Linked DNA regions of Homo sapiens. The protein of the gene in region 1 purifies or fractionates together with the protein of each later gene. This does not show direct contact. Each region holds a gene or a part of one and is shown in the gene's direction. Other genes may lie near its edges.

The links.
Region 2: the proteins of FOXO3 (region 1) and TAF5L purify together in Homo sapiens (affinity purification with mass spectrometry; one large-scale study listed by BioGRID and IntAct). This does not show direct contact.

Annotation. Positions count from the first base shown.
Region 1 is NC_000006.12:108,665,388-108,669,209, forward strand, and holds part of FOXO3 (forkhead box protein O3), read left to right. Parts: intron 1-3,822. UniProt on the Homo sapiens protein: Transcriptional activator that recognizes and binds to the DNA sequence 5'-[AG]TAAA[TC]A-3' and regulates different processes, such as apoptosis and autophagy.
Region 2 is NC_000001.11:229,615,937-229,619,758, reverse strand, and holds part of TAF5L (TAF5-like RNA polymerase II p300/CBP-associated factor-associated factor 65 kDa subunit 5L), read left to right. Parts: intron 1-3,822. UniProt on the Homo sapiens protein: Functions as a component of the PCAF complex. The PCAF complex is capable of efficiently acetylating histones in a nucleosomal context. The PCAF complex could be considered as the human version of the yeast SAGA complex.

The DNA of each region.
Region 1 (3,822 bases):
AGGTACTTCTAATTTGCCTGCAGAATATGTATTCTAGACTCTTTCATATATGAATATTTCTAACAGAAGCAAAATCTGTTAATTATTCTTTATCTTAGTACTAAGCATCTTTATTAGCTAGCACTCAAGAGCTAAACCTTTAAAAAAGTAAGAGGCCAGGCACAGTGTCTCACGCCTATAATCCCACAACTATGGGAGACTGAAGCAGGAATTGCTTGAGGCTAGGAGTCAGAGACCAGCATGGGCAACATAGCAAGACTCTGTCTCTACAGAAAACTTAAAAAATTAGCTGGGTGTGGTGACACATACCTGTAGCCCCTGCTTCTCAGGAGAATCCCTTGTGCCCAGGAGTTTGAGGCTGCAGTGAGTCATGATCGTGCCACTGCACTCCATCCTGGGTGGTAAAGCAAGAACCTATCTCTTAGAAAAAAAAAAAAAAAAAGCCAAAAAATTAATTTGAAAACACAGGTGTTTGTATGAGGGAGTACTTACTCGTGTGCTTCTGCTTGTTCACCAAACTATAAATGATATCAGCAGTTTCCAAACATAGAGTGACACAGGTTGTGAATGGTGATGGAGATTTTTTCAATTGTGGCATTTTAATGTTCTCAGAACCACAAAGATCAGGCAGTGTGATGTAAGAAAAAGCATTTGATTGAAATCAGGAATTGAGGTTCAGGCCCACTTCTACCACTTTCTTGCTACCACTATGGTTGTGTCTTAGGTCTCTGAGTCTCAACTTCCAGTTTTATAAAATGAGGATAATAGCCCCCATTACTTCACAGGGTTATTACAAGAATCAAATGCACTAAAGCATGTGAAACTGCAGTAGGCTGAAATATGTACCATGCAACTAGGTATACTGACAAATGGGCAAGCAGGTAGCCCAGAGAGGTTAAGTAGTTTGCCCAAGGTTACAGAGCTAGGTTGATTTCTTTTTTTTTCTTTTTCTTTTTCTTTTTTTTTGAGATGGAGTCTTGCTCTGTCTCCCAGGCTGGAGTACAGTGGCGCGATCTCGGCTCACTGCAAGCTCCACCTTCCAGGTTCACGCCATTCTCCTGCCTCAGCCTCCTGAGTAGCTGGGACTACAGGCGCCCGCCACCACGCCTGGCTAATTTTTTTTTTTTTTTAATTTTTAGTAGAGATGGGGTTTCACTGTGTTCACCAGGATGGTCTCGATCTCCTGACCTTGTGATCCGCCCGCCTCAGCCTCCCAAAGTGCTGGGATTACAGGCGTGAGCCACCGTGCCCGGCCTAGATTCATTTCTTAAATGGCTTGAACCCCCATAGTAGTTCTTCCTTATTCTCTCTAGCTGGTTAGAAAAAAAGCGGGGAGGGGAGGGAAGTGCCCTGAACTGGAGTCAAAGTAGCAGATGATAGACAAGCTTTCCCTAAAAACTCTCCTCCTCAAGAAGTAAGATGAACACTGGGATCTTCTACCAACAGGTTTGCACCCCTAGCCACCTCGATGTTAACAGGTTCTGTTCCGTGCCCCAGCCCTTTTGCTTTGTTTTGTTTTAGTCTCAGCAAGCTACTTACAGGCTTCTTTAAGTGGTGTAAAAAGCAAGGGAATTCAAAGCTGTAAAAACTTGAGCCTTGTTTAACCCTCTGCCATGATGAAGGACTTAACAAGGGTCTCCTATGGTGAGCTCACTCCAGCTCACGGGTGGTTGCAGAAAGGGGAATGTTAAGAGTGTTGTGATGCTAAAGCCTCTCAACTTTCTCAGGCCTAAGAGACCCCTAATGGAACTCAGATATCTGATTTCAGTCATTTAATAGCCCTTGAGATGGTGAAAAGACTGTAATGGAAGCTAAGTAGGGTGGTAGTACTTCCATGCCAGCCAGCTCAGTTCCATACCAGAACTTGGGCTAGTGGAGATTTGACTTCAGAAATGTAGATATTTGGCCTTTAGAAGACTAGTTTGTCTTCCTTTAAGGAGAAGAATATGGAAGATTTGTCTTTAGAAATGTAGATGTTTGGCTTTTAAAAGAATAAATGGTTTGTCTTCCTTTAAAAATAGGCTTTTAAAGACACAAGTAAGTTTTAATTTGAGTGTAATTGTAAGGAGGCCACTTTCTAGTTCGTTGGAAAATATGTGTTCAGAAGACAATGTAGTATCAGTTTTTGTCTGATTTTTCAAGTGTTGGTTTCCCTTTTGGTTGAACAGCAGATCTTTCTCGTATATGTGTAATTCTAAAGGATTGTACAGAAAATTAAGGGAGATCTAAATACTTAGATTTTTAAAGTTTATCTGGTGAACTCTGATTTTGGTGATGATAATAAATGACTGCATTGAGGATAATGCATTTCATTGTTATATCCTAATGAAGCTTTAGGGTCATCTTCGCCTCAGAATATTTTGGGGGAGGTTGTTTTGAGAAGATAACTTCTTCAGCTAAAAATGAAAAGTCACCAAATTTTCCTGAAAGTAGACTAGCTCAGTATGACCACAGAGCATTTAAAGAACCATCCAAAGGACAGTGGGGGCTGTGAGGGGATCTAGTTTCTGGTTTAGGATTTCCATTTTTGCTTAGAATCCATTGTTCTTTCAGCAGCCAGGAGCACATGCAACCTGAAGTGTATTTTTTACTTTAAAACTTAACTGTGACTGTCACTTCATTGAAGACTCTCCTAAATTCACAGAACGAGGCTGAGGTCAGACTCTGACACCCTGCTTCTCTCAAATTAACTGTCCCAGCTTCCCAAGAGTTGCTCTCTAATAACTTTCTTGGTTTAACTTCTTAGTGTTTCTCCAGACTGAATTCCTGGCTTGCTCACAGAAGAAGGTCATGTGATGCTGAATCTGAGCCGCCTTGTGTTAATGGAGCGGTCTGCTCAGTTGACAGGCAGTCTTGCTGGGGAGCTGCAGCAAGATGCTTCTCTGGCGGGCTGGGTGTTTCACACGTCATTCATTTTAGACCACGTGTAGAATTCTTTGACCCTTAGGTCTATCTGGAAAAGAAAAAATAGCCATACTTTTTTGGAGGGCTGGCTGCTGGGTCGTGAAGGGCACTGTGTTCTCTCAGGTGTTCATAAAGCTTGGTGCATGTGCTTACAGTTGGTGGCAGAGATGGTCATGAGCTGGTGTGGTGCTGCAAGCTCGAGCTTCCGGTAAGCCTTCTTGAGTTCGACATGTGTCCTCTCTGAGGGAAACCAGCTTCAGTCTCACCTTAATTTGATATCAAAGATGCCTGCATTCACAAACTTTCATTCATCTTCATCTTTTGACATTTGGAGACACCATTAGGGAGCAGCCCAATATTTAGTTTAAAGTACTTTACATAAAGACTGGGAAGCATCCACCAGCAAAAGCCCAGATGGAGAGGGGAGGGGTGGTTCACTTCTTGTCTCTGCCACATCACTCAATCTTGTAGAATATTAGGTTTCTCATTTGTCAAAAGAAGACAGCCTCATCAAGTTTTAAAGGTGCATAGTATGTATAATTTTAAACTTGAAGACCGGGCGCAGTGGCTCACGCTTGTAATCCCAGCACTTTGGGAGGCCGAGACGGGTGGATCATGAGGTCAGGAGATCGAGACGGTGAAACCCCGTCTCTACTAAAAATACAAAAAAATTAGCCGGGCGTGGTGGCGGGCGCCTGTAGTCCCAGCTACTCGGAGAGGCTGAGGCAGGAGAATGGCGTGAACCCAGGAGGCGGAGCTTGCAGTGAGCTGAGACTGCGCCACTGCACTGCAGCCTGGGTGACAGAGCAAGACTCCGTCTCAAAAAATAAAAAAAATAAAAACTAAATAAACTTGAACCCTAACATTTTGTCTGTGAAATGGACCTGGTGAAGTCTATGTTATGATACAGAGCTAGAA
Region 2 (3,822 bases), on another chromosome or scaffold:
GAGAGATCGTGAAGGGTGGTGCTGGAAAGTGACTGGTTAGATCAAAAAGTTAAGGAATCCCAAGTCTCAGTAGCCCACTGAGGTCAGAAGCAGGGTCAGCTGGCTGGGTGAGGAGACTGGTGAAGGTTTAGAATAGCGTAGGTGGAAGGCTGTAGGGTAAGTAGTTGATGAAACAAGACTTCTGGAACATCATGGAGGTCCCAGCTGATGTTGGAGAAAATCTACTTCTCATGACATCTGTTTGCTGGATTTCGTGATTTCCACCTACTTTCTACCACTGCTGCCATCCCCACCAAAACGCCACATTCTTCACTGCGTCCTGAGCCCAGCTACGGCCTTATCCATGTGCCATTTTATTTCTTAGGACACCATGGGAAAAAACACAGCTTCTAGTTCAAGTGTATTTATGTCAGTCTGAGCAAAGATTGAATATGAAAGGCTATCATAATTTTTAAATTATATGAGGTATGACTGAAACTGAAAGTAGTATGGCTCATTTATTTTTCAGTTGTGATTTATATTTTCACAAAGCTTATTGAATACACTTTATCATGATGATTAATGCAAAGCTAGGGCTTTAGGTCCTACTTAGACTGATCTTTTGATGTTACAACCATTTAGTTGCTGTGAGTGAAGAGAACTAATAACTTGAGTTACCTAGTAGACACTTTACAAAAAAATGCAAAAAAATAATTTTTTTCTTCTGTTATAAACATAAATTTGCCATTGGAAAAAAGATACAATTACTCAAAAGCCAACAGTCAGAAGTCTCAGTTGAAGAGCTGATTTGAGGATTGTGTAGTGAGTTTGCCTGAATTTATCTTGAACTCACCCCTACTCAAAACTGCCACCTTATTGGGGCAGGGGGAGGGATGGGGGAGCCAGGTAGTACTCTTTTGGCATTTCGTGGAACTGTGTAGTACTTTAACCTGTGATATGGTGGATGAGGGTGCCTCCCAGCCCTCCTCTACCGACCGTGTACATTAGAGCCTAACGGGGGTGGGGGTGGAGGGATAGGATGCAGCGTGTAACCACTGAAGGGATTGACCAGACTAGAGTTCCACACTGACAGCATCTTAAGAGGATGCCTGGGTTCCATGTATCTCCACCTCCCCATGTTTCTGTAGTTGAATGTTAAGTGTGGCTGTGGTTTTCCCTGCAGAGTTGTTACATTGAAATGATCATGTGGGATTTTATATAGCAACTTGGTTGAAGTATCTGGCAACTGTTGATACATGAGAATAGATATACATTGTGTCAAAATCCTCCAGAAATTTTTGATTTCCAGAAATACCAATCTGGCAACTGTTGATACATGAGAATAGATATACATTGTGTCAAAATCCTCCAGAAATTTTTGATTTCCAGAAATATCAATAATGTGATATGAAGAGCAGAGTATTTGACATCTGTTTTTACCTCTGAAAGTTAAGTATTTTATATAAATTGAAAATGATGAGAAATTCTGAAATGTTAACAAAGAGTATAATTATATTTAAATCCAATTTCAGTTTGAAAGATTTTATAATTATAGGAAAAGCTAGGCAGGTAACGAAACTGCACTGTTCGTCTCATGTATGAGTCTCTCCAGAGACTTAGGTCTAGTTTAAGGAGAGTTTTTTTTCTTCACTTGTCCCTTTTTGGATATTAGTACTCTGGAAATCAGTCTGGGTGGAGGGGACCGATTTATCTCAGGTTCATTAATTATCCATGTCACTTGAAATATATGTACATTGGAATAAAACCCAGCTGAGTTGATTGGGTCGTGTCTCTAGTATTTGAGTTTAGCGTGGTTATGCAAGAGAGTCATTGCCAGAATTCCTGCCCTTAAGATCCATGGCCATACAGTTGATTCACCACCCACCCTCAGGGAAGCGCCCTTATCATAAATGGTAGTTTGGACTCAGAGAAATTGCTATTTGGGGCAGCTAATTTAAGCATATTTGTTAGAATCAGTATTACAGACTAGTTTCTAGCAATCTTAAATATGGTCAGTGTTGACTATCATTCATTCTTACTCCGTTCTGTTTACTCTTTCCTAACTTCACATCTTTTCCCTTCCTCCTCAGACACATAGGTATATTGTCGCACCTTGAGGACACTGTGTCATTGCAGAGCCTGTTCTCCAGATCAGTCATTCACATGTCTTTCACATGCAGAGTTTTTTCCTGTCAGAGGTGATCTAAGAGATCGAGGCCCATCTGCCTGGAATGCTCACGGATGTGCATCAATATTTGCATGCATTCCCAAGTCAGCAAAAGATCGGCAGTGTGGAAGCCGGAAAGATTTCAGTCTCAGCTAGAGTAGGGAATTGGGCTGCTTTGGGAAAGCCCGCAGAGTAGGAGATCTTGAAGTTAGATGAAAAGCAGCTGTAGCAAGTGATAGGAAGAGGCACTGGTTGGATTGACTCGTCTTGACTTTGGGCCACACGGGAAAGGACAGTACTGTCACAGCCTCCGTGTGCATTTAACTTTTTTACTCTAAATATAACACAACCAGAATCTGCAGGGCTGAAATTATTTATATACATATCCACACACTCATGGGATTCTTATGTATAGCCAGGTTGGAGGATCACTGATAGAGCAGTGCTGATCAGTGGCCACAGAGAATGGGAGCAGGGACCCCACTCTCAGAGTATCAGAATCCCTGTATTAGCAATTTAAAAAAACAGCTTAATTAAAAAGTAACCTAAGTCATCAATACAGTGAGAGAATAATACACCATACCCAAGCAAGGTAAATTTCATAGTGAGAAGAGAGTTCAGTATTTGGAAATTTATTATTGTGTTTCATTATGTCACTGATTCACAACCATAGTGTTCCTTCTTTTTAACAATCACACACCTAGTACCCCTTCTTTGTAACAAATATTTTGAACTCTTTGGCAACCTAGAAATAAAATGCACAGATAATGTAATCTTTCTGGGCATATAGTTTAATATATATATAATGTCCTAACATTTTATATTTACATGTATATATACTTGTGAGTATGTCTCTAGCCTTCACAGTTTGCTCTGTTGTATGACTTGTAGGGAATTGAAAAGTAGGTCTTCAGAGTATATTTTTAAAGGGCTCCCACAAATCAGTTTAGAAGGAAATAATTACTTGCAAATGGTATTGGGACAGTGTGTTAGCTACAGTCACTGGGCAAAACATTTGTTTGGTTATTCACCACACATACACTAAAAGAAACTGCAGATGGACGAAAATTAGATACAAATAATTTTTTTATGTTTAAAGAAAAATAAGACCAGGCATGGTAGCTCATGCCTGTAATCCCAACAATTTGGGAGACTAAGGAAGGAGAATTGCTTAAGCCCAGGAGTTTGAGACCACCCTGGACAACATAGCAAAACCCCTTCTCTACTAAAAAAAAAAATATAAATAAATAAATAGACTTCCGGAAAAGGTGGAATTTTACATCTTAAAAAAGAATGGAAGAGCAGGCACGGTGGTTCGCACCTGTAATCCCAGCACTTTGAGAGGCCAAGGCAGGCAAGTCACTTGAGGTCAGGAGTTCGAGACCAGCCTGGCCAACATGGTGAAACCCCATCTCTACTAAAAATTTAATAATTAGCCAAGTGTGGTAGCGTGGGCCTGTAATCCCAGCTACTCGGGAGTCTAAGGCAGGGAATCACTTGAACCCAGGAGGTGGAGGCTGCAGTGAGCTGAGATCATGCCATTGCACTCCAGTCTGGGTGACAGAGCAAGACACTGTCTCAAAAAAAATAAAACAAAATGAAAGAATGGTAGAACTCTCAAAGGAAAATACTAATGCATGTAACTGAAACTGAGAACTTAAAACACATCCAAATAA